Homo sapiens: one gene and its partners. The protein of the gene in region 1 purifies or fractionates together with the protein of each later gene. This does not show direct contact. Each region holds a gene or a part of one and is shown in the gene's direction. Other genes may lie near its edges.

Region 1 (7,215 bases):
TAGCTTCTTATGTAAACATGGAAAGATTGCCAGCTGAACACCTGTCATGCTCTAAGAAGTTGGGGAGAATTTGCATTTTTAGAACTGTGAGCAAAATGAGAACGACTGCTATGTTCATGCTTTGTGAATTTAGCTTTATTTCATTCACACAATTCATGGGAAAAAATGCATCTTTTAACTCGGTGTTTTTCAATTCAACTTTTAAAATACAGGAGTGGGCCAGACCCGGTGGCTCACACCTGTAATCTCATCACTTTGGGAGGCCGAGGCAGGTGGACCACAAGGTCAAGAGATAGACACCATCCTGGCCAACATGGTGAAACCCCATCTCCACTAAAAATACAAAAATTAGCTGGGCATGTTGGCACGTACCTGTAATCCCAGCTACTCGGGAGACTGAGGCAGGAGAATCGCTTGAACCTGGGAGATGGAGGTTACAGTAAGCCGAGATCGCGCCACTGCACTCCAGCCTGGCGACAGAGCAAGACTCCATCTCAAAAAAAAAAAAAAAAAAAAAAAAAAAAAAAAAAAAAAACCAGGATGTGTTACCAAGGAAAATTCATTTACAATGGTTAATTATGTGACAAACATGTCAAGTAATTCCATCTGGCTTTGTGTCACCATTTCCCCACCCTTTTTTCAGAAACCAAAACCAAGAAGAAGAACAAACATCAAAATGGACATGGAAATTAACAAATATATGATTCAATTTAATCTCCTAAGAGGTTTTTTAAAATTATTTTATTTTGAGACGGAGTCTTGCTCTGTCGCCAGGCTGGAGTGCAGTGGCAGGATCTCAGCTCACTGCAACCTCCATCTCCCAGGTTCAAGCGATTCTCCTGCTTCAGCCTCCCAAGTAGCTGGAACTACAGGCAAGCACCACCACACCCAGCTAATGTTTGTATTTTTGGTAGAGATGGGGTTTCACCATGTTGGCCAGGATGGTCTCGATCTCTTGACCTCATGATCCACCCGCCTTGGCCTCCCAAAGTGCTGGGATTACAGGTATTTTTTATTTTTTTTGAGACAGGGTCACCCTGTCACCCAGGCTGGAGTGTAGTGGCACAATCATGGCTCACTGCAGCCTCAACCTCCCAGGCTCAGGTGATCCTCCATGTCAGCCTCCCAAGTAGCTGGAACTATAGGCGTGCAACACCATGCCCAGCTAATTTTTGTATTTTTTGTAGAGACAGGGATTTGCCATGTTGGCCAGGCTGGTCTTCAACTCCTGGCCTCAAGTGATCCACCCGTCTCAACCTCCCAAACTGCTAGGATTACAGGTGTGAGCCACCGTGCCCCATCTCATCTGCTAAGTGGGTTTAAAGAAATTCAGTTTCATGTCAATTTTTAAAATGTATGGTTATCAAATTCGACTTCTTTTTAAAAATGCAATCAGATAACTGTATGCTTGTTTGATGAGGGGAGGAAAGTTAATATAGCCAATCTACTCAATATTTTTAGCAGAAATTATCAGAGACTAAGGAAATGTTTAAGTTTTTCTCATGTTGGTTTTAATTACCTAATGTTTTCAGTTTTCTCTTTCATTCTTGTGTCTTTTTTTCATTTTCAGTGTTTCAAATACAGTTTGTATTTAAAGATTTAGAAGTTCCAAAACTGTAAGCACAGTGGATTGTTTCCTGGGATGATGTTAAAATTATACAACAAAATATATGAAACTTTGTCAATTTGGTTATTGGCACATACAAAATATTTACAAATAAACGTGTGTGTGTGTGCGTGTACACACAATTCAATGAAATAGATGTGAAACAAGTTTTCTTTTTTTTTTTTTTGAGACAGAGTCTTGCTCTGTCGCCCAGGCTGGAGTGCAATGTCGCAGTCTCAGCTCACTGCAACCTCTGCCTCCCGGGTTCAAGCGATTCTCCTGCCTCAGCCTCCCGAGTAGCTGGGACTACAGGCACCTACCACCACTCCCAGCTAATTTTTGTGTTTTTAGTAGAGACAGGGTTTCACCATGTTAGCCAGGCTAGTCTCCAACTCCTGACCTCAGGTGATCTGCCCGCCTCAGCCTCCCAAAGTGCTGGGATTGCAGGCGTGAGCCACCTCACCTGGCTACAAGTTTTCAAAATACATTTATCTGTACCCATACATTCTCCAGTTTGTCCACAGGACATCTTATGACTTGAGCAAGCTGCTAAAAATCCAAGGGTGCAGCGTTTGTATGTCTATAGGATTGCTCAGATCTGCCCCCACCCTGAAAGAATTTAAGAGAATTTCTTGAGGCCAGGCACAGTGGCTCACACCTGTAATTCCAGTACTGTGAGAGTCCGAGGTCAGAGGACTGCTTGAGGCCAGGAGTTCAAGAGCAGCCTGGACAACATAGGGAGACCTGTCACTACAAAGAATAAATAAATTAGCCAGGCTTAGTGGCTCATCCCTGTGGTCCCAGCTACTAGGGAGGCAGAAGTAGGACTGCTTGTCCCAGGAGGTCAAGACTGCAGTGAGCTGAGACCCAGCCACCTGCATTCCAGCCTGGGCAACAAAAAGAGACCCTGTCTCAAAAAATAAGTTAAATAAATAAATAATAAAAATAGTTTAAACCCTAAACACATCTTCTTTTTCAAAGAGGACTTCTTAAGGACTTCATGCTGCGTCCTGTTGATCTCCACTTCCCTTTTTCAGCGTCCACACTTTTAACAGTCTCTTTTGCCAAGGATAATAAGTATATAGTTTCTGGAATCCAGATTCTTCCCTGTTTGGACAGCCAGGGGGACAATTTTTGGTCTGCAGGCCTTTGCATCTGTTCTGCTGTTGCTCAGCAATCTCACAGCAAATTTGCCGAGCCTCTCCGGAATGCACAGCCAGACAGAGCTCAGCGCAAAAGCTAGAGAACCTGGCGGAGGGAGACTCACAGTGCCACAAAAAAACTTTATCTTTTCTTTTTTTTTTTCTTTTCTTTCTTTCTCTTTCTTTCTTGTCTTTCTGTCTTTCCTCTCTCTCTCTCTGTCTTTCTTTCCTCTCTTTCTTTCTTTTTTCCTACATGGCAAGATCTCCTCATGGCAGAAATAATCTGCCTTGACTTCTGTTTCCACGCTGCTTCTGCCAGGACCATGCGCTCGGCGTGTTTTTCTTTCCGCTATAATTATCCAGGCCCATCCCAGCTCTGGTCCCCTCAGCTGTTCCCTGGCAGTCCCTTCTGCTGGTGAAAACACATATGGCGCCGGCCTGACCAGGGTGTAAGTGTGTGAATATCAGGAAGATGACTGAACGTCTTTGGGACTCCGTTTCCTCATTGTAAAATGGAGGTTAATACCAGCCTTCTTCTACTCCCCAAACGCACGTGTTTGTCCCGGCCAGAGGGCCCAATTGTTGGCTGTTCACGCGTCAGTTACCCCCACAGGACGGGTCAGCCAATTAAAGGCGAACCAGGCCCGGTCCATCTCCTGACGCCTTTTCTCATCCCAGGGCTGGACAGGCAGCTGGCCTGGGCCCGGCTCTGCCTTGTCACGTGCGGGGGCCGGCCCGTTTGCTTGTCTGTGTGTAGGAGCGTGAGGTCACGCTGGGTGCTCCCGCCCCGCCGGGGCCTTTAGTGTCCTGGTCCCTAAACGCCAGGCCGCTCCACCGGGGGAGAAGGCGCGAACCCCAGCCGAGCCCAACGGCTGTTGTCGGTTGCCGGGCCACCTGTTGCTGCAGTTCTGATTGGTTCCTTCCCCCGACAACGCGGCGGCTGTAACCAATCGACAGCGAGGCCGGTCGCGAGGCCCCAGTCCCGCCCTGCAGGAGCCAGCCGCGCGCTCGCTCGCAGGAGGGTGGGTAGTTTGCCCAGCGTAGGGGGGCTGGGCCCATAAAAGAGGAAGTGCACTTAAGACACGGCCCCGCTGGACGCTGTTAGAAACCGTCCTGGCTGGGAAGGCAAGAGGTGTGTGACTGGACAAGACTTGTTTCTGGCGGTCAGTCTTGCCATCCTCACAGAGGTTGGCGGCCCGAGAGAGTGTGAGGCAGAGGCGGGGAGTGGCAAGGGAGTGACCATCTCGGGGAACGAAGGAGTAAACGCGGTGATGGGACGCACGGAAACGGGAGTGGAGAAAGTCATGGAGAGAACCCTAGGCGGGGCGGTCCCCGCGGAAAGGCGGCTGCTCCAGGGTCTCCGCACCCAAGTAGGAGCTGGCAGGCCCGGCCCCGCCCCGCAGGCCCCACCCCGGGCCCCGCCCCCGAGGCTTAAGCCGCGCCGCCGCCTGCGCGGAGCCCCACTGCGAAGCCCAGCTGCGCGCGCCTTGGGATTGACTGTCCACGCTCGCCCGGCTCGTCCGACGCGCCCTCCGCCAGCCGACAGACACAGCCGCACGCACTGCCGTGTTCTCCCTGCGGCTCGGTGAGCCTGGCCCCAGCCCTGCGCCCTTTGCGCCCCCCACGCTTGTTCTGCGTGCGCTGCCCGCTCTTCCATTTACCTTCTCTCCCACCCAAGTTTGTACTCTTTTCTTTCTCTCGGTTTTATTTTTTGTTTTTGTTTGTTTGTTTGAGACAGGCTTTCGCTCTGTCTCCCAGGCTGGAGTGCAGTGGCGCGATCTCGGCTCACTGCAGCCTCCACCTCCCAGGTTCAAGCGATCCGCCTGCCGAGTAGCTGGGATTACAGGCGCCCGCCACCACGCCTGGCTAATTTTTGTGTTTTGTAGAGATGGGGTTTCGCCATGTTGGCCAGGCTGGCCTCGAACTGCTGAGCTCAAGCAATCCGCCCGCCTCGGCCTCACAAAGTCCTAGAATTTTAGGCATGAGCCTCCGGGTCCGGCCTGTGCTAATCCTTTCTGTCCTTGGTTCTTTATTTCTCTTCTCTCTTTTTCTTAGTCCCTTTTGTTCTTTCCCTCTCCCGTTCAGTTGGCTGTCGTTTGAGCCTCCACCTTTTCACTCCCTCCTTTCCACCACGATGCCGAGCCCTGCCTTGGATGGGGACCATCAGCGATGACCACAATGACCTCTCCCTTACCAGGCAGCTCCAGGCAGTGTTCCTGCACCGCCTTTCCCAGGGCTTGGGGGCTTTTTCTAGTGGGCTTTGAGCTGCTCAATCTGGCCTCTGCAGGGCCGGCTCCCAGCCCTTCCAACCTCCTCACAGCCCGACCTGGGACCTAGCCAATTCCCGGAGAGTCTCTGTCCCATCGTGACCCCCTCACAACTCTCCCACTCACCAAAGTCTGATGACTGTGCTAGGGGGTGCTTATATAGAGTACTGAGTGTTACAAAAGCAGAAGTCTGGATGAGAACCAATTTGTGATATTAAGCAGGTGGGGTGGGGGTGGGGAGTGTACCTAGGTTCATTTTCCGCCCTGCTTTTCCCCTTTCCAGTGTGTGCACTTAACCAGTCCCTGGGCCCTGTTCCCCATCCCCCTCCAAGGCATGGATTGGGTGGGCTTGTGTGTCTTGGGGCAGGTGGCCCTTTCTAAACTCTCTGCCTTTGCTCACCCACAGGACACATAGTATGACCATTAGGTGTTTCGTCTCCCACCCATTTTCTATGGAAAACCAAGGGGATCGGGCCATGATAGCCACTGGCAGCTTTGAAGAACGGGACACCTTTAGAGAAGCTTGATCTTGGAGGCCTCACCGTGAGACCTTACAAAGCCGGGTAAGAGTCCAGTCCAAGGAAGAGGTCTCTTGCTGCCTCCTAACCCTGTGGTCTAGGGGCAGGAGTCAGCAGGGCATTAACAAAAATAATTACCATCCCCACCCCCGACAGTGAAGTGGCTCTTTCCAGTTCACAGAGCACTCTCACACCTCCCCGCTCTCATTCTGGCCCTTCAGCTGACTCGGACAAGCCAAGGATCTTGGTCCCCATTTTATAAAGGAGAAAACTGAGGCCCACGTGTAACAGTGATTGGCCCCAAGTCATCCCGGGAGCCAGCAGAAGAGCTAGGACAGGAACCTATTGTTCTAACTTCATATTGATGCTAGCTTTTGACTATCCCTGAAACCGAGATTGGTAATCAGCCCGGCTCTGAAACTGGTTATTTGCTGGGGACTGTAAAATAGGATTAACTATTTCTAGTCCTGCATTTTAATTGCTGTTAGTAGGGCCATCTTACCCACCCTCTGAAGGACCTGACTTGGCAAGCCCAAGGCAACATTCAGAATATGGCAGCTGAACCTCTGTGCACTTGTCTTTGGGCAGCAGCTGGGTCTTATTCTTCTCTGGCCTTCACAACATCCTGCAACCCAGCTCAAGGTCAGGAATGTGACAGACTCATGTCATCATATCTCTGATGCCCAGAGAAGGGATACCATTTGCCTGAGCCTTCTCAGTACTGTTTAATCAGCCTGTGAGAACTTTCCTTGTGAAAGGCCCTGTCTGTGCCTGGGGCTGATAAAACAGCAAGAACGAACTGAGGAGCTGGGCAGCAGTGCAAAGCAAATACTACCAGCTTTGGTGCCTGTAAGTGTGGCTCTTACTCATCTCACATGGAAATAAGGGCAGCCACCTTGCAGGGCTGCTCTGAGGATTGAGCTAATACAGTGCCCTGGGCGTTGGGGTGGGGAAAGTTGTGGAGCACCTCCTGGGGGAAGGGGGTGTCAGAGCAGGGAATCTGGGGAGTCCGAGGGCACCTTCATCAACCCAATCTGTCATTTGAGCACCAGTCTTCACTGAGCCTCGTGGGCAAGCTGGAGGGAAACAGGAATAAGGTCAGGCCCTGTTCTATAGGTCCCAGTGTAGTTGCTATGGTGAGTATCTTCATTTCCCTGCTTGCCCCAGCCACCTGGAGTGAGAAGCCCAAGAGGAAGCTGGGTGAGCTGTTTGTTTCCATGGGTCTCTGTGTTCACAGCTGACTCCCTTCACCAGCCAGCCCTTTCACCTGAGCCCCAGCAACAAAGGCAGTCAGGCGGGGCTCAAAGCAGCTGCTCCAATGAAGTCAAAGAAATAAGCTCAGGGGAAGAAGCAGGTCACCCTCCCCCACTAGGGTGCTGGGCTCACTTCCTCCTGGGGCAGTGGAGGAGGGTGTGGTTCCAACTCAGAACAAAATGGGGCTTTTGGTTTACTTTATCACTCTTCACAGCTCTGACCTGGACCCCTCATCCCTGCCTGTCTTGTGGTGTAAGTGCGGATCCCCCTAAGTTGGAGGAAAGGAAACTGGCCCAAACAAAAAGGAGAGCAGTTTTCTCTGCATCACATGGTAGGCCAGGAGGAGTCTAATGCCCCAGAGTTTACTCTCAGCCCCCAAAATCACCTAGCTAAATGTTACCTTATCTAAGAAGTCCTTAGGTTTTTTG
Region 2 (7,025 bases), on another chromosome or scaffold:
AAATTAAACACCCCTTCATGCTAAAAACTCTCAATAAACTAGGTATTGATGGAACGTACATCAAAATAATAAGAGCTACTTATGACAAACCCACAGCCAATATCATACTGAATGGGCAAAAGCTGGAAACACTCCCTTTGAAAACCACCAGCACAAGACAAGGATGCCCTCTCTCACCACTCCTGTTCAACATAGTATGGGAAGTTCTGGCCAGGGGAATCAGGCAAGAGAAAGAAATAAAGGGTATTCAAATAGGAAGAGAGGAAGTCAAATTGTCTCTGTTTGCAGATGACATGATTGTATATTTAGAAAACCCCATCTTCTCAGCCCAAAATCTCCTTAAGCTAATAAGCAACTTCAGCAAAGTCTCAGGCTACAAAATCAATGGGCAAAAATCACAAGCATTCCTATACACTAATAATAGACAAACAGCCAAATCATGAGAGAACTCCCATTCACATTTGCTACAAAGAGAATAAAATACCTAGGAATACAACTTACGAGGGATGTGAAGAACCTCTTCAAGGATAACTACAAACCACTGCTCAATGAAATAAGACAGGACACAAACAAATGGAAAAACATTCCATGCTCATGGACAGGAAGAATCAATATCATCAAAATGGCCATAGTGCCTAAAGTAATTTATAGATTCAATGCTATCCCCACCAAGCTACCATTGACCTTCTTCACAGAATTAGAAAAAAACCACTTAAATGTCATATGGAACCAAAAAAGAACCCGTATAGCCAAGACAATCATAAGCAAAAAGAACAAAACTGGAGGGATCATGCTACCTGACTTTAAACTATACTACAAGGCTACAGTAACCAAAACAACATGGTACTGGCACCAAAACAGATATATAGACCAATAGAACAAAACAGAGGCCTCAGAAATAACACCACACATCTACAACCATCTGATCTTTGACAAACCTGAGAAAAACAAGAAATGGCAAAAGGATTCCCTATGTAATAAACGGTGTTGGGAAAACTGGCTAGCCACATGCAGAAAACTGAAACTGGACCCCTTCCTAACACCTTATACAAAAATTAACTCAAGATGGATTAAAGACTTAAATGTAAGACCTAAAACCATAAAAACCCTAGAAGAAAACCTAGGCAATAACATTCAGGACACAGGCATGGGCAATGGCTTCATGACTAAAACACCAAAGGCAATGGCAACAAAAGCCAAAATAGACAAATGGGATCTAATTAAACTAAAGAGCTTCTGCACAGCAAAAGAAACTATCATCAGAGTGAACAGGCAGCCTAGAGAATGGGACAAAATTTTTGCAATCTATCCATCTGACAAAAGGCTAATATCCAGAATCTACAAGGAACTTAAACAAATTTACAAGAAAAAAGCAAACAACCCCATCAAAAAGTGGACAAAGGATATGAACAGACATTTCTCAAAAGAAGACATTTATGCAACCAACAAATATATGAAAAAAGGCTCATAATCACTGGTCATTAGAGAAATGCAAATCAAAACTACAATGAGATACCATCTCAAGCCAGTTAGAATAGCAATCATTAAAAAGTCAGGAAACAACAGATGCTGGAAAGGATGTGGAGAAATAGGAATGCTTTTATGCTGTTTCTGGGACTGTAAATTAGTTCAACAATTGTGGAAGACAGTGTAGCGATTCTGCAAGGATCTAGAACCAGAAATATCGTTTGACCCAGCAATGCCATTACCGGGTATATACCCAAAGGATTATAAATCATTCTACTATAAAGACATATGCACACATATATTTATTGCAGCACTATTTACAATAGCAAAGACTTGGAACCAACCCAAATGCCCATCAATGATAGACTGGATAAAGAAAATGTGGCAATATACACCATGGAATACTATGCAGCCATAAAAAAGGATGAGTTCATGTCCTTTGCAGGGACATGGATGAAGCTGGAAACCATCATTCTCAGCAAACTAACACAGGAACAGAAAACCAAACACTGCATGTTCTCACTCACAAGTGGGAGTTAAACAATGAGAACACGTGGACACAGGGAGGGAAACATCACACACCAGGGCCTGTTGGCAGGTGGGGGGCTGGGGGAGGGATAGCACTAGGAGAAATACCTAATGTAGGTGACAGGTTGATGGGTGCAGCAAACCACCATGGCACATGTATACCTATGTAACAAACCTGCACATTCTGCACATGTATCCCAAGAGAATATAATTTTTAAAAAATTAAAATAATAAATGCATAAGTGTTACTCATTTATTGAAAAATAAAACCTGAAATGTACTGGATTCAGTCATAATATGTCCAGATATTCTTATATTTTTCCAATATTTAAAGAAAATTAAATTTGTTATCTCCAGGCATTATTTAGGACTGAGGATAATTAGACAATTTTTGAAATTCTATCAATTTTTGAGGTCATTACAACTTATCACTAATTGGGTAATAGCAAGGTGATATGAAAATTTTTCTATTGAAGTCATGTACTTAGAAAAGCTTGTTCAGATCAATAAAAATTATATTCTACAGTCAATTTTAACTATAACAAGTATATTGTAAATGCATATCACTAGTTGCTAGCAAAAAAAGATGAAAAGAAATTAATATTATAGCCCATATTTACTAACTCATTGCTATCTCAAAAACTGTCCCTAACTTTCCACTAATGGCAGCATAATAGCTGAGGGTGTTCCATTCAAAAGAACCATGTCAGAACTTTTAACTTATCTACTTTCAGTCTGACAACTTTGTAAAGTAGATGTCACACCTAATTAGCAGATAGAAAAACTGAGGCTCAAAGAAGTTAGCTAACCTGTCAAAAATTACATGGCTACTAAGTGGAGAAGCAAGGAATCAAACCCAAAGAATGTAAGCCCTCAGAGACTGTATGTGCAAAAGAACAAACTGACTAGCTAGAAGTGGAATCACACCTTCAAAACTGTATTCCAGATTAACGATTTTACATAGTAGAAATATCTAATTTTGAAGATCTCTATTAAAATGATTCTTAAGTTCTTTTTTAAGTTATTAAGTTTCTTTTTAAAAATAAATATTTATAAAATGACTAGTCTAGCTATCAAAATATCACTACCATGGGGGAAATGGGAGAAAATTTTCTGGGATAAAAGAAACTAGAGACATAACAAGTCACTGCAACACACGGCCCTTAGTTGAGTCCTGGTAGGAACAAAATGACTAAAAATATTTTTGCCAAAATTTGAGTATAAACTCAATTTTAGATTATATGTTTGAATTATTAATATTGTTATAGGTTGATGGTGTTGTGTTATAAAAGAAAGGCTTTTTAGAGAGAAATGCTGAAATAGAGAGTAGCTGTTACAATTTCTGTAGTTTACCTTAAGATACTTCAGCAAAACAACTAAGATATATAGCAAAATGTTAAGAATTATGAAAACCAGGGAATGAGTATATAGTTCTACTACCCTCCTCACTTTTCTATATGTTTGAATATTTTTCAAGACAAAAAGTCAAAAATTGTTTTTAATTACTTGTATTTAAAAATTCAGTGTTGATTTTTTGGCTTTAAATACTGCCCTGCACCAGTACTTGGCACCACAGTATTTTTTTTAAATCCTCTGTCCTTTATTAACTTGTCTTATTGACAAGGAAATATGGTGTTCCATCACATTAACTGTCAGAAGGCAATCACTCTGCTTACTTTGAGAGCCCAACAGGAAAGAGTGGATGATCTGTTCCTGTTGGGAGGACCTGGGCCATGGTTGTTTGTTTCTCCGTAAGCGCCTTCAATTACTGTTCCACTACTCATCAAGCACATAAGTTACTCATTGAGAACCTCTGATCGTCACTGTGCTCATCAGGAAGAAATTGATGCACAAAGAACTACTGTCAATCTCAGCAAACCACAACTATTCTTTTCTTTAAAAGTAAATTCCTTGACACAAATGACCTTATCTTAAATCTAATAGATTTCCTATTTCCAAAAAGCTCGACTGGAGTGTTATAAAACCTGAAAATTCTCTTGTGCTTTCTCTTCTTTTGCTTCTAGTTACCATCCTCAAAGGATTGGCTAAAAGCAAGCAACTGGATTGAACACCCTAAGAAGAAAGATTCACACTGCACCAGGTATGTGGATACTTTAGATAGGTTCTAATATAAACTAAACAGCTTTCAAGTAATATACATATATTAAGTAATAGCAATAGTTGTTCTAATACAGTTATTCTCCTCTCTTCTTATGAACTGCCAAACAGTGTGGTAACACTCAATTCATATGTTATTAGAACACAATATGATTGGTAGGAATGTTTTTTGGTCTTGAAATTTAAAAACAAATCTGACAATATATTAGGAACCTGAAGAATAATAAGTAACCATTTCGTTTTTCAATTGGGTCAGATTGTTTTCTTCTTAGTGTGCTAGTACTATAATAATACCACTGAGACTTTATTATGGATAAGACATTATTCTCAGTACGATTTGTAATATATATATTATTCCAGTCAATCCTCAGGACATTCTTATGATGTAAGATTGCAACTCACTCAAAGTCATGCAGTGAGTGGCAGAGTCACACAGTAAGTGGGCAGAGCTTAAATCAAGTCTCTGACTGACTCTAACACCCATTTTATAAACCATGGGATTGTATTGTAAAGTGTGTCTAATCTCACAGCCCACCACATTGACATGCACACTAATTACCTGCCCTAATATGTAATCTGTCTATATGATTTAACCTTTATTTTGTTTTCTAAAGCTGATAAGCTGACATGTACACATTACATATATAACCAAAATGAGAAAAACAAAAGACCACATTCTTCTCTCACTCTTCCCTTCTACAACCTATAGCCAAAATACAATTCTCTTTTGCAAGTAGTTATTCAAAAAAAATATGTATTAAGTCTGCACTATGTACTAGGCATGATGACATAACAATGAATAAAGAATAATTCCTGTCATTTTGGGACTTAGAAAAAGGGTATCGGCCAGACACGGTGGCTCACACCCGTAATCCCAGAATTTTGGGAGGCCGATGAGGGTGGATTGCTTGAGCCCAGGAGTTCAGGACCAGCCTGGGCAACACAGTGAAACCGTGTCTCTACAAAAAATAAAAATAATAATAGCAATAGCCAGGAGCGGTGGTGCATGACTGTAGTCCAAGCTACTAGGGTGGCCAAAGTGAGAGGATCGCTTGAGTCTGGGGGGTGCAGGCTGCAGTGAGCCATGCGTGTGCCACTTCACTCCAGCCTGGACAACAGAGCGAGACTCTGTCTCAAAAAAAAAAAAAAGGTACAAGAAAAAGGATTATCAAATGGCAAAATCTTCAGTAGAATGAAATTGGAGGAAGAGTCCATTTGACCTGGTTCTTTGTTCCAAGTGACAGCCTTATAGCACAGCGACAAAGAGCATTTTCCTCTAACATCAGGAGTCTTTGCAAAACTGTGTAGTATCAGGTCATTTATATGATGGTTCCCCACAGAGGGGAGCTTCCTGAATTAGAAAAGAAATAAGAAGAAAATTATTTCCTTTTCTTATTGCTAAACTTCCTAAGATCCTGCCTTTCCTAGCCAATCTTTAATATCAATAGAAAATGCTCATTTTGCAAACTAGTTAGAATAATTCTTGAGCCTCCTCCATTGCTTCCTCTCTAAAAGAATGCATTTTAGGCCTGAAGCAATTTTGCATCACCCCTATGGAATGAAAATGTATACATAATTTTCAGAAACCATTGGTCTCTTTTTGCCTGTACTTTCTAATAAAAATAAGTTATTTACCAAAACGCATTCCTCTCCCATAATATCATAACTAATAGTACGCCACATTTCTGCTTTTCCCAGGAGACATCAGAAAGAATGAAAACTCTGCCGCTGTTTGTGTGCATCTGTGCACTGAGTGCTTGCTTCTCGGTAAGTATTCACCCAAATAAGTTTTTTCCTTAACTATCAATAACAAACATTTAGTGTACCTACCTGAGACTTTTAAAGCATAATAGGCAACCCCTATTTCCAAGAAGCTTGACATCTTTTATTTCCAGGAAACCTATAAATATGGACAATTGGCCGGTGCACTGGCTCACACCTCTAATCCCAGCACTATGGGAAGCCTAGGAGGGAGGATCACTTGAGCTCAGAGAAGTTCAAGACTAGCCTGAGTAACATAATGAGACAGTATCTCCACAACAACAACAACAACAAAATTTAATTAGCCAGGTGTGGTGGTGCGTGCCTGTAATCCCAACTACTCGGAGGCTGAGGTTGGGATCTTAAGCCTGGGAGGTCAAGGCTGCAGCAAGCCGTAATCATACCACTATGCCACAGCCTGGGTGACAAAATGAGACCCTGTCTTAAAAATATATACAGATAGGTAGATAGACTAGATAGATAGGTAGATAGACTAGGTAGGTAGGTAGGTAGGTAGGTAGATAGAGCATAAGGAAATAATTTGTTTCATTTATCCAATATCTATAGAGCACAAACTTTATAGTGAGTGTGATGAGAACTGACACAGATGAAAACCCAGGTTTGTAAGGCCTTTAGGTCTTGGTGTGGAATATGGTTTCAAATCTGTCAGGAAGTCTCAGCATGATCAAAGCACTCCCAGGGGATTTACATGACAGGATTCTCAGGAGAAGATAGGTAGCAGGTAACAAAAGCTGAGATAAGGAGACTAGTCAGGAAGCTATGGCAGTGGTCCAGATAAAAGATGATGGTGACTTGCACTAAATTTCAGCAATTAAAAGATAAGAGTGGGTTTAGGATATATTTTAGTGATTGAGTCTACTATATCTTCTGCTGGATTGTATATGTGGTAAAAGAAAGAAATGAACAGGCCGGGCGCGGTGGCTCATGCCTGTAGTCCCAGCACTTTCGGAGGCCAAGGCAGGTGGATCACCCGAGGTCAGGAGTTCAAGACCAGCCTGGCCAACATGGTGAAACCCCGTCTCTATTAAAAATACAAAAATTAGCTGGGTGTGGTGGTGGGCACCTGTAATCCCAGCTACTCAGGAGGCTGAGACAGGAGAATTGCTCGAACCTGGGAGGCAGAGTTTGCA
Region 3 (6,869 bases), on another chromosome or scaffold:
ACAGGGCTGTCTGATACTGGGAGCAAAGTGGCAGGATTTAAAGAATTACAGACTTCTATGGTTATACATTGATTTTCACATAACAAGCTTTGGTGTTTAGTTAATGTAGCATTTGTTAGCCAATGGTGTCTTTTGGTGTTCCTTAGAGTTACATTAGAGTCAGCTTGGGCTGACATAAGTTTTTCTTTTAACTTATAAGTCTTGTTGTTGTAGAGACCTCTATTTAAAAGGCTCTCGGTCACCCCCTTTATAACTCCATTCAATGCTTTGGCTAACACCACAAAGTTTGGAATCTGCAGTCTGCAAAAATCTCACAGCTCCTAAATGTTCTCTTATTTGCCTCCTGGTTTTAGGTTCTGGTAAGCTGCAGATGACCTGCTTTCTTGCTGACCATAGACTGCACTCCCCTTTTCAAATAGTGAATCCTAGGTAGTGTACCTGCTGTCTGCAGATCTGAGCTTTCTTTTTGGGCACTTTATATCCACAGTCCTCCAGGTGTCGAAGCAGGGCACCCGTCCTTTTTGCACACCTGACTGCCATGGAGTGTCCTAGCAGAAGGTCATCTACATACTGGAGCAGGATGCAACCTAGGTCTTTAGCAGGAAACATTTGGAGGTCTCCAACCGAGGCCTCCCGAAAGATGGTGGGGGACTTTTTGAACCTTTGGGAAAGTCGAGTCTAAGTGTACTGAATGGTGACATCTGACTCCGGATCTTCCTACTGAAAGGCAAACAGCTTTTGGCTCTCAGGAACTAGCCTGATGTGAAGAAGGCATCTTTCAAGTCCTGTACGGGTCGATAGTCTTTGGTCCTTGGTTTAGGGACAGGTAGGAGGTGGGTGTTCCATGGAGACTGGCAAGGAACTAGAATTCCAGAGGCTTTTAAGCATATAAGATGAGTCTCTATTCCTTTAAAGGCTTCCCTGGGAACAGGATACGGCTTTTGTCCAATTGGCTAGGTCGTAGGCTAAACTTCTATGAGTACGGGGGCTTGATTGATTGCCAGCCTCAGAGGATTGTCCTCCATCTCTACTCAGAGCCGTCACTCAGCTGGAGCCACTTTTATTTCCTGAGCTGGCTCAGTTAGCAAAAGTCTCCACTCTTCTTCCTGGGGGACTGGAAGGGCCATGATGACTCCTGTTTCTGGCAACTCCAGCTGTAAAGTGCCTTGTTTTGTCAAGGAAATGGTGGCTCTTAACTTGCTAAGCAAGTCTCTTCTCAACAAAGGCAAGGGACAGTCAGACATATACAGAAATGGATAAATCACTTTGTGTCCTCCCACTGAGCAGTTGCGCGGTAGACAGAAGTCCTGCTTGGTAGAGACTCCTGTTGCTCTAATTCTATCAATCGTCTTTATAGATGAGGGGGCCACTGGAGTGCTTACTACTGAGTGTTCGGCTCTTGTATCCACTAAAAACTTAATGTCTTTGCCCCTTATTGTCATCCTGACCATGGGCTCCTTGGGGGCATTTGAGCCTGTTCCCCTTAATTCTAGCAGCCCCTCAGCTAGATTGAACAAAATCCTTTCATCTTGGTTTGAGGTCTTTGGCTCTGCATCACTCTGATTTTCTTTGAGTTGGGGACATTTATCTTTCTAATGTCCTATTTCTTTACAGTAGGCACATTAGTCATGCTGCAAATGTGAGTGATTGGACAGGGCATTCCTCCCAGAACCCCCTTTTTTCTGCCTTTTCAGGAGAATTCCTCTAATTGTCACAGCCAGCAAACTAGCGTTTCACCTGGCCTGGCGTTCGCCCTCCTTACGGCTTTCTTGGCCGCTTGTTGCATCTCTATTTACAAATACTTCATTAGCTCTTTCCAGTAACTGCAAGGTTTTCATTCCTGCAAACCTAGCCTGTTTTTGCAATTTTCTCTGGATATCTTCTGCACTCTGAATAACTAAGGCCGTATTAATCAACGGCTGATTTTCAGGACTCTCCAGATCGAAAGGAGTGTACATGCAATAGGCCTCACACGGTCTTTGATAGAACTGGGCTGGGCTTTCCTCCTTTCCTTGGATGACTTCAGAAACTTTATTTACATTGGTACCCTTTTGAGCCCCTTTTTTCAACCTTTCAATTAATGCCTCTCGGTACCCTCTTAGCCTTTCCATATCTGGTCCTTCATTTGGATCCTATTGAGGGTCCGTTCCTGGCAGCTGAATTCTTATGTATTCTTGGGGACTTTGATAATTGGCTGGGATGTGCTCCTCCAGCCATTTAACTGTTGCCTGCAGCACCTGTTGCCTTTTATGTGTTTTAAAGAGGTACATGAGTAGCTGGTGGCAATCAGCCTAAGTAGGATTCTGAGTCTGGATAATTCTTTGAAGCAAGTCAATTAGGGCTTGAGGCTTTTCAGTGTAAGATGGAGTGTTATTTTTCCAGTTGAGTAGTTCAGCAGAGGTAAAAGGGTGATACACAAAAGCATGCCTTTCTACCGTATGTCTGACCTCATCTGTCCTAGTATATCGCTGCTCTCTCAGGGCATTTGAATTCCCGTCTTGGGCCGTTAAGCGGGCTGCCAGGGAAGTGGATTTTCCCGCAGTTTCACTTTTGTTCTTGTCTACTCTGGGTGGTCTAGGGGCTGTGGGCTCAGGAGAAGGGGGCCTCCCCACTGGATAAGGGGTTGAGGGCACTGTTGGTGCCATCTCCTGCCTTGAGTCCTCGAGCTCTGGGTCAAACAGAACTTTAGGTGCTGGCTTCTCTTGGCCGGTGGAGCGAGAACTTTCCTGAAATAAATGTCCCTTTGCTACTACTACTGCTGCTGCCTGTCCTTTTACCACTGTAGAGGATCTAAAACTAGCTGTAACTAGGAATCTCTATATGGAAATTGATATGGGTGCAGGCACACCATGAGCGATCAGGCCAAGCTTCCGCTCAGGTGGAGTGGGGCAAGTTGAAAAGACTTGTCTTACTAAGTTTCAGATGTCTGGACTCCAAGTGCCAGTTCCTTCCTGGTGTTCAGCCACTGTGTTAATCCTCCGCGGGGATCACTGCTCTGGCGAGGCGTTCAACCGGGGCCATTTCCTACCTGGGAGCGCTCTTTGGATCCCATCCCTCAGGCTGGCCAGAGTCCCTGGCAGCCTGAGGGATGCCCCGGCCTTACTCCACAAGGCATGCCTAATCTGCCTAAGGAGCTGCCTCGGCCGTCCATCAGTTATCTTGCTTCCAGGTCAGGGAACCAAGAAATGTAGCAGGACAAGCGGCAGACAAAACTCTCAGACACCGAGTTGTAGAAGGAAGGGTGTTATTCACCTGGGAGCATCGGATAGCTACTGTCTCAAAATCCGAGCTCCCCAAGTGCACAATTTCTGTCCCTTTTAAGGGCACACAGCACTAAAGATGTCACATGAAAGGGTCGTGATTGATTTGAACAAGCCAGGGATATGCGACAAGGACTACATGCACCCGTGGTCAGGGAGAAACAGAATATGGAAGGGAGTTTCACAATGTTCTTCTATACAATGTCTGGAATCTATGAATAACATCGGCTTCTAAATCATAAGTTGATTTGTAACTACTGGGTTTAGGCCAACCAGGCCCAGGCCTGGTTTTGTGCCTTTGATTTTGCTTCCTTGTTGTTTTTACTGAATAGAAAACAATATAAAACAAGAGGACAGGGTCTTTCTCTCTTCTCAATATCAGCACTGGATTGTAGAACTTGTTGCTGATTTTGGCCTGGCATTCAAGTTAACTCTTCCCCTTGGTATCTGTACATACCTTTGATGTCAGTGTTTAGTACACGTGGCTTGGTCACTTCATGGCTAAAAACGTGCTTGTGGAAGACAAGTCTGGCTTGGTGAGTCTGTGTGGTCAGCAGTCTCTGATCCGTGCAGGGTATTAATGTGTCAGGGCTGAGTGTTCTGAGATTTATCTAGAGGCTGGGAAGGGCTCCTGAACCAGTTGTTTCCGTCTTGTCGGTCTGTCAGGGTTGGAAAGTCCAAGCCATAGGACCCAGTTTCCTTTCTTAGCTTACGTTATCTACCAGAGCACCGTGGGCTGTTACTTGCCTTGAGTTGGAAGCGGTTCGCATTTATACCGGTAAATGTATTCATCCTTTTAATTTATGTAAAGTTTTTTAGTATGCAATTCTCGATCTTTTAAGAGTTGACAACAAATTTTGGTTTTCTGCTGTTATGTGAGAACATTAGGCCACAGCAACATGTCATTGTGTAAGGAAAAATAAAAGTGCTACCATATGCAAAAAAAAAAAAAAAAAGAAAAGAAAAGAAACATTAATGTCTAAGAGGTCATTGAGATGATTTCCATGAGAGACTTTTTGATGTTCTTCACCAGTTAGGATTATTATTGATAATCCTTTTCAGATTATGAATAAACAGTTTGCCCTCAAGTATTTATTCATGCTACTATTTACATTGTAAAATGTGCTTCTTACAGGAATATAAATAGTTTCTGGAAAGGACACTGACAACTTCAAAGCAAAATGAAGCTCTTTTGGTTGCTTTTCACCATTGGGTTCTGCTGGGCTCAGTATTCCTCAAATACACAACAAGGACGAACATCTATTGTTCATCTGTTTGAATGGCGATGGGTTGATATTGCTCTTGAATGTGAGCGATATTTAGCTCCCAAGGGATTTGGAGGGGTTCAGGTGGGTATGATTCATAGTATCAATTGCAGAATTCACTGTGCTTGTAGTAAACACTATTCTGATCTTCTACGTGAAGCTTGGGCAACATTTTACTTCACAGGTAAGTATTCTAAGTAAAAGAATTTTCTGAGGAAAAAACAATGTAGTATTCTTTGCAACTGTATATTTTGTTTCTGATATAATCTTTCTTCAACAAGAGCCCTCCGATGTGCTGTTAATATTTTCAAGAGATAGCTGCCTATACCAAGATTCAAGAATCTTTTGTATTATTGATTAGATTCTAGAACATTCAATGATATACAGTAAGACAGAATTTGGTACTTATGAAGACTGTTTAATTTGTAGGTCTCTCCACCAAATGAAAATGTTGCCATTCACAACCCTTTCAGACCTTGGTGGGAAAGATACCAACCAGTTAGCTATAAATTATGCACAAGATCTGGAAATGAAGATGAATTTAGAAACATGGTGACTAGATGCAACAATGTTGGGGTAAGTGAATTCTAGTTTCCTTTAAAAATAACAGATAGGAAAATGATTTCTGTCTCTTCTTTCTTGCTCCTTTTGAGCAGAAAGTTTTCCATATCAGTTTTAATTTTACTTCATACTTTAAAACTCAAAAGTAACTGTCACCTTATGTTCAATTTTTGAAAATATTTGTATATGTGCTCTCTACTAAAGAGATAAGTTAAAGTTTATAGCAGAGTTTACTTCTGAAGCAAAACATCAAATTTTAACCGCTATAACTATCCATATTTCCTGGAAGGATTTTCTGGTGAGGAATTTTAATTCCAGTTACAATATTTGCTCTCATTTTTAGATGACTTGTGTCTCCATTCCTAATTCTTGGGTTTTTTTTGTGGTGAATAGGTAGCTTATCTATTTAATGAGGAGCAGAATTTGAGATGAATAGCTACCTTATTTGTCTTCCAAGCTTAGTAGAGAGTACAGGCTTTCTCCTGGTGACCCACTGAAATTTCCCAAATAGTAACCTTTTCAGTCTCATCTGAGTTGTGTCTCCCCAAAATGGGCTTTTTGCCTTTCCTCCTATTTATGGTAGTTTCCGGTTCTCTCAGTTTATCATTCCTATATATATTTGGCCAAGTGTCTGGAATGAATGTAGGTGTTTAGTTCACATTACTTTCCTTTCACAGTTGATTTTTGATCTTGTAGGAAAATAGTTATAAGGTATGAAATATTTTGGAATTTTATTAGCACACTATAAATTTAATCAATAATTCTTTAAATTTCTGCCTCTCTGTAAGTCACACTGAATTAGAAACTTTGTTTTCTAGGTTCGTATTTATGTGGATGCTGTAATTAATCATATGTGTGGTAATGCTGTGAGTGCAGGAACAAGCAGTACCTGTGGAAGTTACTTCAACCCTGGAAGTAGGGACTTTCCAGCAGTCCCATATTCTGGATGGGATTTTAATGATGGTAAATGTAAAACTGGAAGTGGAGATATCGAGAACTATAATGATGCTACTCAGGTAATTTTTTTACGAGAGTGATCTGAATAAGGAGTGATATATGCCTTTTGTTGTAGACATGTAGCTAATTGAACTTCGTTGTAAATATGAATTTAGATCTCTTAGGGACAGAGGTTAACAAGTTTGACTACTTTAAGAAACTCAAATCCATATTTGAAAACCTTTAAATATTGATTTAAGATTTTTAATCAATACACATTTGTCCACTTTTAAAAAGCTCCCAACCAATTGAAAAACTCATCGACTTTATTTCCTAAGTTCTCTATTTTCTATTAGAAAATATTTCCAAGATACATCTATAGTAGAATGTGAGCATCCCCAGTGTCCAATGCAAGGAAGTCACCATAGAATATCTCTTGAGGAATCATGGAATAAATGAATAATCAAATGGATTCTCAGGCGAAAAGTGAGGTTTTATTAATCAATCATAACATTCTTACCTCAACAGGTCAGAGATTGTCGTCTGTCTGGTCTTCTCGATCTTGCACTGGGGAAGGATTATGTGCGTTCTAAGATTGCCGAATATATGAACCATCTCATTGACATTGGTGTTGCAGGGTTCAGAATTGATGCTTCCAAGCACATGTGGCCTGGAGACATAAAGGCAATTTTGGACAAACTGCATAATCTAAACAGTAACTGGTTCCCGGAAGGTAGTAAACCTTTCATTTACCAGGAGGTACGTCAATACATATAGGCATATAAAATATCATCCTATTCATTAGAAAATTCACGGCAGATTCAATTAAAAATGCAATTTCTGTAGG
Region 4 (7,152 bases), on another chromosome or scaffold:
CACAGGCTGGAATTGAACTCCTGGATTCAAGGAATCTTCCTGACTCACTCTCCTAATTAGCTAGGATTACAGGTGCACCACCTCACCTGGCTATTCCATCATTTTCAAACATGTTGCTACATCACTGGTAAAGTCTGCTCATCTCTGCTGGTCTGAACTCCCAGACAATACGCTTTAAAAAGTAGCCTCTTTCTCCACACGCACAACAGACACAACATTTGCCTAAGGTCATCAAACATCTGGAGCAGCTGGCCAGCTACCCCCACCTGCCACTTCCTATCACTCCATACTGGACATCGCACTTGTACCTCCTCAGAAAAGCAACATACATTGGTATCTTTCCTACTGAGATTAGAGAGGTTGCTGCATCAGGACAGCTGACCCTCCCTGCAGTGCATGCCAGCATCCTGACACAAGATGACCACTGGTGGTGTCATCACATACACGGCACAGATCAGCACTTTGGCCTCCCTCCCTCACACTCCACCCACCAGCAAATTCTCACTATTTGGGTTACCTGTTTGGGAAAAGAAAGAGAGATCAGACTGTTACTGTGTCTATGTAGAAATGGAAGACATAAGAGACTCCATTTTGTAAAAGACCTGTACTTTAAATAATTGCTTTGCTGAGATGTTCTTAATTTTGTAGCTTTGCCCCAGGCACTTTGACCCAACCAGGAGCTCACAAAAACATGTGTTGTATAAAATCAAGGTTTAAGGGATCTAGGGCTGTGCAGGATGTGCCTTGTTAACAAAATGTTTACAAGCAGTATACTTGATAAAGGCCGTCGTCATTCTCTAGTCTCAATAAACCAGGGGCACAATGCACTGCGGAAGGCTGCAGGGACCTCTGCCCTTGAAAGCAGGGTATTGTCCACGGTTTCTCCCCATGTGATAGTCTGAAATATGGCCTGGTGGGATGAGAAAGACCTGACTGTCCCCCAGCCCGACACCTGTAAAGGGTCTGTGCTGAGGTGGATTAGTAAAAGAGGAAAGCCTCTTGCAGTTGAGATAGAGGAAGGCCACTATCTCCTGCCTGCCCCTGGGAACTGTATGTCTCAGTATGAAACCCGATTGTACATTTGTTCAATTCTGAGATGAGAGAAAAACTGCCCTATGGTGGGAGGCGAGACATGTTTGCAGCAATACTGCCTTGTAATTCTTTACTCCACTGAGATGTTTGGGTGGAGAGAAACATAAATCTGGCTTACGTGCATGTCCAGTCATAGTACCTTCCCTTGAACTTAATTATGACGTAGATTCTATTGCTCACATGTTTGTTGCTGACCTTCTCCTTATTATCACCCTGCCCTCCTGCTATGTTCCTTTTTGGTGAAATAATGAAGATAATAATCAATAAAAACTGAGGGAACTCAGACCGGTGCCGGTGCAGGTCCTTGGTATGCTGAGCGCCGGTCCCCTGGGCCCACTGTTGTTTCTCTATACTTTGTCTCTGTGTCTTATTTCTTTTCTCAGCCTCTCATCCCACCTGACTAGAAATACCCACAGGTGTGGAGGGGCAGGCCACCCCTTCAACCTGCATCTCCTTTCCAGTGATAAAAAAAAATGAGAGGATTTCTTGACCTTCAGCTTATCCTCTGCACAGCAGCTCTTCCTGAGTCTGGACTCCCAGCTATCCCAGGAAGGTGGGAGCCACAGAGGAGAACTAAGTCCTACCCTTTGGAGATGACCACTCTGCTCACAAACACCTGGTAAGGGACTTCCCTCTCTCTCCCTTCTCTGGGAATTTATCCCCATTCCCTGTCTAACTAGGAGCCATCCTGCGCAGCCCTGTTTGAAGACCTTCCCTCCATCACCCAGCGGTAAACACCATCCCTGGGACACCTGCTGTATCTGCTGGGATGCATGGTTTTTCTAGGTGTGCTGGATTGACAGTGGTGTGCAATGGTCACTGGGCCTTGGATAACAAGGTCCCCTGTCCTAATACTGAACATGAACACCAATGAGTAATATTGTTCCTGCTGCCGGGTCCTGCTGATGCAGCCCCAGCCACGGCTGAGACCCAGGATCCCAGCAGCTCTGGGTTGACTCTGTCTGACCCTCACCTCCACTACTCCCAGGAGAGTCCTCTGGATGCCATGCAAAGGCCCAGGGTTTCCTGGTGTTTCTCACCAAGCCTTCCACCTCACCACAAGGGCATTTGCCACAGGGTCACCTTCAGGCATGGAGGGTTGGGTTGAGAGAACAAAGGGAGCAGCTGTCTGTTCAGGGCCTCCTTCCATCCTCCCCAATCCTGGAGCCACATTCCAGCACAGGCCCACAGCATCCCAAGCTGGAGACTTTGTCACCCCACAGAGCACTGTGGTGATTAGGTCCTCTCAGTCTGTGGAGAAGGAGAACTCCCAATCCTGGCAATGAAGCAACTTGGGGGCCACTGGAAAGCCACGCTGAGCAAAGGACGAAGACACATCTGGGATTGCTCTGCAGGATTCCATTCCTGGGAATCTCAAGGGCAGGTGACAAAGGAGTCTACAGGACTGGACAGGGGCTGCCAGGGTGGGGTGGGCACGAGGATGAGCTGCAGAGGCAGGAGGACACCGTCTGGGGCAAGGCAGATGTCAGAGGTCTGGACAAAGTGGTAATACAGGTGTATGTATTTACAAAATCTTCCAGGTGGGCACATACTATTAGGCATCTTACTGTATGTAAATTCTACCTCCTTCAAGGCAATTTTTAAAATATCAGGTGGGTCTTCCAAGCAGTGCATAGAGGAAAGAAGCTGGAAGCATGGCTGCCTAGGAGAGAAGCAAGTGAGGCCTGTGGGCTCCCACATTCATCCCTTGGCTTCTGCTCCCTCTTCTGACACCCCCACTGCCTGCCAGGTGTCTCCCTGCACCTTGTGGGCCCCACCCACAGTTACCATGAGACACCAGGTCATTCCCTTCCCTGCTCACATCCCCTCCAGGAGCTTCCTCTTCCTGGAGCAGGCATGTCCCAATCCCACCTCAGGGCCTTTGCACTGGCTGTTCCCCAATGCCTGGGGCTTCTCAACCTCTCCAGTCTCATAGAGACCACCCTGACCAGGGTCCAGTGGTCTCTCTCTAGCCCCTGTTCTATTTCACTTCCAACAGAGTGAGTATAACTCCCTGATCCTAATTGTTGACCATAACCTATCATCCCCTACACACACTGTGTAGGAACGGACTGTACAGTTTCATAGCCACCTGCCACATGTGCCACGGGACACTTGAAATGGGGCCAGTCCAAAATGACTCCCAGGCTAAGTGTAAAAAATACACAGCGAATTTCAAAGATTTACAAAACCCCTCCAACAAAAAAAAAATCTCATTAATAATAGTTCCTATTAGCTGAAATAATATTGTGGCTGTATTAGGTTAGATAAATATTTTAAACATTACTTTCACCCATTTTTTCTCATCTTTTAAAATGCATCTACTACACATTTTCATATGCTCGTGGGTTCATGTCACATCTCTGTGGGCAGCAGCTCTGCAATGTCACCTCTATGGCTCATCATCCAGGTTCAGTATTCAAGCCCTAGACCTCCTGGCACGGGGAGTAGCTGGTGATAAGTTTTTTTATTGAATAATGAGTTATGAAAAGAGAACCCAGTGACCTTTTCAAAAAAGGTTAATTCCCTTGAATTTGGCAAAGAAATTCTCCATAATAGGGTGTGGACAGGGTCTTCTGGAACCTTCTGAAATAACCTCCCTGTTCCAGAGATTCAGAGACCGTGACCAAGTGCTCCTGGATGCCTCTGATATCTGAAGACCCCGGAGGCCAAGCCCTGTATTTTTCACTTTTCTGAGCAAACAGGAGGTCACATTGTTTTCATAGCCAAAGGAGAAGTGTCATCTCTGTGGAGACCTGGTGACTCAAGCTTGGGAGCACTGGGGAAGAGAGGCATGGCTCGGGGAGGCTGCAGTGAGGACAGGAGTGGGGAGGAGGGGTAGATAGAGGAGGAGGCCTGGGAGGGGCAGGGAGAACTTAGGCAGGGAGGGATCTTGTGGTTTCTGAGGAGTGAAAAGAGAGATGGAGAAAGAGGGAATGAGCAGAAAGAGGAGGAGGAGTCAGGGGCAGGTCATGGAGGGGGGTGGGGCTGAGCTGCCAAAGCAGGATAAATGCACAGCTGCCTGCTGGTCTGGGATCCCCGCCTCAGGCTCTCAACCTCCTCTCCTGCAGCTCCAGCTCTGTGCTCTGCCTCCGAGGAGACCATGGCCTGGCCCCTGTGCACCCTGCTGCTCCTGCTGGCCACCCAGGCTGTGGCCCTGGCCTGGAGCCCCCAGGAGGAGGACAGGATAATCGAGGGTGGCATCTATGATGCAGACCTCAATGATGAGCGGGTACAGCGTGCCCTTCACTTTGTCATCAGCGAGTATAACAAGGCCACTGAAGATGAGTACTACAGACGCCTGCTGCGGGTGCTACGAGCCAGGGAGCAGGTGGGTGCTGCCTCCACCTGAGGGGTCCTGAGTCCCAGCCTTGTTTGTTGCCCGATCCATAAGAGCATTCGCAGCACATCAACACTGATACATTCATGATCTAATGCTCAGATTCATTCAGCTTTCCCTGACTCTCTGCTTATGGCCTTCATGCCTAAGCATGCTCCCGGGGGATGGAGACTATGCTGACTCTGGATGGGCTTGATGCTGCTCAGGATGAGATCCAGGCCATGAGGCTCACCCTCCTCCCTGAGTCCTCTCCTCAGGGGCCACACAGGAACTTCGCTTCCTGTTCTGCAGAGCCCTACTTCACTCCCCAAGTCACACCCGTGGGTACAGCCCTTTAGGGCTAATGGCCTTCACCCTCAGGCCGGCTGACCACCCCCTACAGCCCAGGGCAGCTGAGTCCCTGCTGGGGTGGAGCACGCCTGACCCTGCCTCTATGAGTTGATGCAGAGTTAGACCTCAGCCAGATGAGGACAGCAGTTACCCAGTAGAGAGGAGGAGGTGTCAGGTCAAGAGAGAGCTTCAGAAGGGCTATTGGGCCCAGCTTTACCTGCATCCCATGGCAGAGCAGCAAATAGTGACACAGGCTTTAGAGCTCCTCCACCTTCTCTTGGAAATTCAAAGGAATCCAGACCAGCCCCATTTCTCCTCCTGCAGCTGTCAACTGGGACCCTCACCCTGCACGGGAGGTGCACTCCCTGGTGCCATGGTCCCCGCTTGCCTCCACCTCCCTTTCAAGCATGACAATAACTTGGAGTGAAGCACAGGGCATTGCAGACCATCAGGCCCGGACGCCTATTTTATACATGGGTAAACTGACACCCATGGGTAAAAAGAGTCAGTGTTCCCTTGCCCCTGAGCCACAGGTGGCAGAATTCAATGAATCCTTTTACCCAGCACAGAGAAAACAATATTTAAGAGGGGGCATGAGGCCCAGCACCCTGCCAGCTGACAGGAAGAGGGGGCTTGTGTGCCTTGTGTTGACATGTGGGCAGCTCACGAAGCCCCCAAGCAAGTCCAGTGACTCAGCCACAGTGAAGTGCCTGTGAGTGCATGAACTGATGGGGGCGCTGTCCGTGCATCCTGTTTTCTCATGTGTGTAGATCGTGGGCGGGGTGAATTACTTCTTCGACATAGAGGTGGGCCGAACCATATGTACCAAGTCCCAGCCCAACTTGGACACCTGTGCCTTCCATGAACAGCCAGAACTGCAGAAGGTACGTTCCTGATGCGGGTCCCAGGCCAGTCATGCACTGCAGAGGGGTGCGTATGTGTCAGTCTCTGCCCTACACATGTTTGGAGGGTGTGTGTGTGCAGGTGGGTATGTGGGGAGTCATGTATGCATGGATGTATACATGTTCATGTACTTGTGGAGGGTTGTGCATGTAGATGTGCATGTGGAAAGGTGCATGTGTGTACACACATGTGCCAGTGTGTGCAGGGAGCTGTATGGGAGCATGTGTGCCTGTGTGTGGGGATTCTGGGGGTTTGTACATAGATCCATGGGGTTGAGGGGTCCAAGTGAGTTTACGTAGTTGCCTATGTGTGTGCAGATGGGGTGGTGAGGGAGGAGGGTGATGTGTTTGATTTGCTAGGAAGCCTTCAGCTTGGGAATGGTTACTGGGAGATCAACTCTGCCTGCTTTGGGGTGTTGCCTGTTGGACAGGAAGAAGCAGCTGTGGGGCTGTGTGCTGGGCAGGGAGAAGGGGCTCTGTCTAATCCCAGCCTCAGGTACCTGCATGCAGCCACAGACACAATGATCAGATTAGTGGGACCTAGAGGCCTGTTAGCTGGGAAGCCCTGGACCTGCCCGGCTCACCCAACACCAGCCTCTCCAGGGACCTGCTGGTTCTTGTGAGGTCTCCACTCAGGGGAGAGCCACACTCCCCTTGTTACCATTGCCCCATGCCCCAGCTCTTTGAGGCGGAGTTGCCCTGCTCTGGGTTCTTCCCTCTGGCCCCTCTTAGTGCTGGCCTGAGTGCTGGAGGTGGAAGGAGCTGGGGGAAGTGAGCCACCTCCCCATGCCCTGCACCCTTGGGGCTCCCAAGGTCTTGCACAGGCTGATCCTCACAGGGCTGTGCTGGGACAGGACACTGCAGGCTGCGGTGGGGGCCCAATGCCACCTGGTGACTTGGAGCCTTGGGAGGGGCAATGGAACAGTCACTATTCATTCTAGTTCAGTGCTCTGGGACTCAGCAGGGGTGGGTGAGGGCCCAGTGTCTCACCTCCATCCTCCTCACTCAGGCTGTGACATCTCATGCCTGGGTGACTTCCCCTTTAACTGTAACTCACACTGATTGGCCCTCTCTCTTCCCTTTCACAGAAACAGTTGTGCTCTTTCCAGATCTACGAAGTTCCCTGGGAGGACAGAATGTCCCTGGTGAATTCCAGGTGTCAAGAAGCCTAGGGATCTGTGCCAGGGAGTCACACTGACCACCTCCTACTCCCACCCCTTGTAGTGCTCCCACCCCTGGACTGGTGGCCCCCACCCTGTGGGAGGTCTCCCCATGCACCTGCAGCAGGAGAAGACAGAGAAGGCTGCAGGAGGCCTTTGTTGCTCAGCAGGGGACTCTGCCCTCCCTCCTTCCTTTTGCTTCTCATAGCCCTGGTACATGGTACACACACCCCCACCTCCTGCAATTAAACAGTAGCATCACCTCCCTCTGAGTTCTTGGCTGTCTGGGGATGTGCACACAGGCAGGGTTTCTGCAGTTCCTTTATGA

The links.
Region 2: the proteins of UCP2 (region 1) and MUC7 purify together in Homo sapiens (affinity purification with mass spectrometry; 3 studies listed by BioGRID and IntAct, with this or other methods). This does not show direct contact.
Region 3: the proteins of UCP2 (region 1) and AMY1C purify together in Homo sapiens (affinity purification with mass spectrometry, with the first as the bait; 3 studies listed by BioGRID). This does not show direct contact.
Region 4: the proteins of UCP2 (region 1) and CST2 purify together in Homo sapiens (affinity purification with mass spectrometry; 3 studies listed by BioGRID and IntAct, with this or other methods). This does not show direct contact.

What each region holds. Positions count from the first base shown.
Region 1 is NC_000011.10:73,979,839-73,987,053, reverse strand, and holds the start of UCP2 (dicarboxylate carrier SLC25A8), read left to right. Parts: upstream 1-4,210; 5' UTR 4,211-4,333; intron 4,334-5,421; 5' UTR 5,422-5,578; intron 5,579-6,124; exon of another isoform or gene 6,125-6,382; intron 6,383-7,001; exon of another isoform or gene 7,002-7,118; intron 7,119-7,215. UniProt on the Homo sapiens protein: Antiporter that exports dicarboxylate intermediates of the Krebs cycle in exchange for phosphate plus a proton across the inner membrane of mitochondria, a process driven by mitochondrial motive force with an overall impact on glycolysis, glutaminolysis and glutathione-dependent redox balance.
Region 2 is NC_000004.12:70,468,196-70,475,220, forward strand, and holds the start of MUC7 (mucin-7 precursor), read left to right. Parts: upstream 1-4,001; 5' UTR 4,002-4,096; intron 4,097-5,811; 5' UTR 5,812-5,826; coding exon 5,827-5,880; intron 5,881-7,025. UniProt on the Homo sapiens protein: May function in a protective capacity by promoting the clearance of bacteria in the oral cavity and aiding in mastication, speech, and swallowing. Binds P.aeruginosa pili.
Region 3 is NC_000001.11:103,746,029-103,752,897, forward strand, and holds the start of AMY1C (alpha-amylase 1C precursor), read left to right. Parts: upstream 1-3,869; 5' UTR 3,870-4,038; intron 4,039-4,395; 5' UTR 4,396-4,441; coding exon 4,442-4,609; intron 4,610-4,954; coding exon 4,955-5,101; intron 5,102-5,904; coding exon 5,905-6,102; intron 6,103-6,550; coding exon 6,551-6,781; intron 6,782-6,869. UniProt on the Homo sapiens protein: Calcium-binding enzyme that initiates starch digestion in the oral cavity.
Region 4 is NC_000020.11:23,823,704-23,830,855, reverse strand, and holds CST2 (cystatin-SA precursor), read left to right. Parts: upstream 1-4,126; 5' UTR 4,127-4,195; coding exon 4,196-4,423; intron 4,424-5,532; coding exon 5,533-5,646; intron 5,647-6,752; coding exon 6,753-6,836; 3' UTR 6,837-7,087; downstream 7,088-7,152. UniProt on the Homo sapiens protein: Thiol protease inhibitor.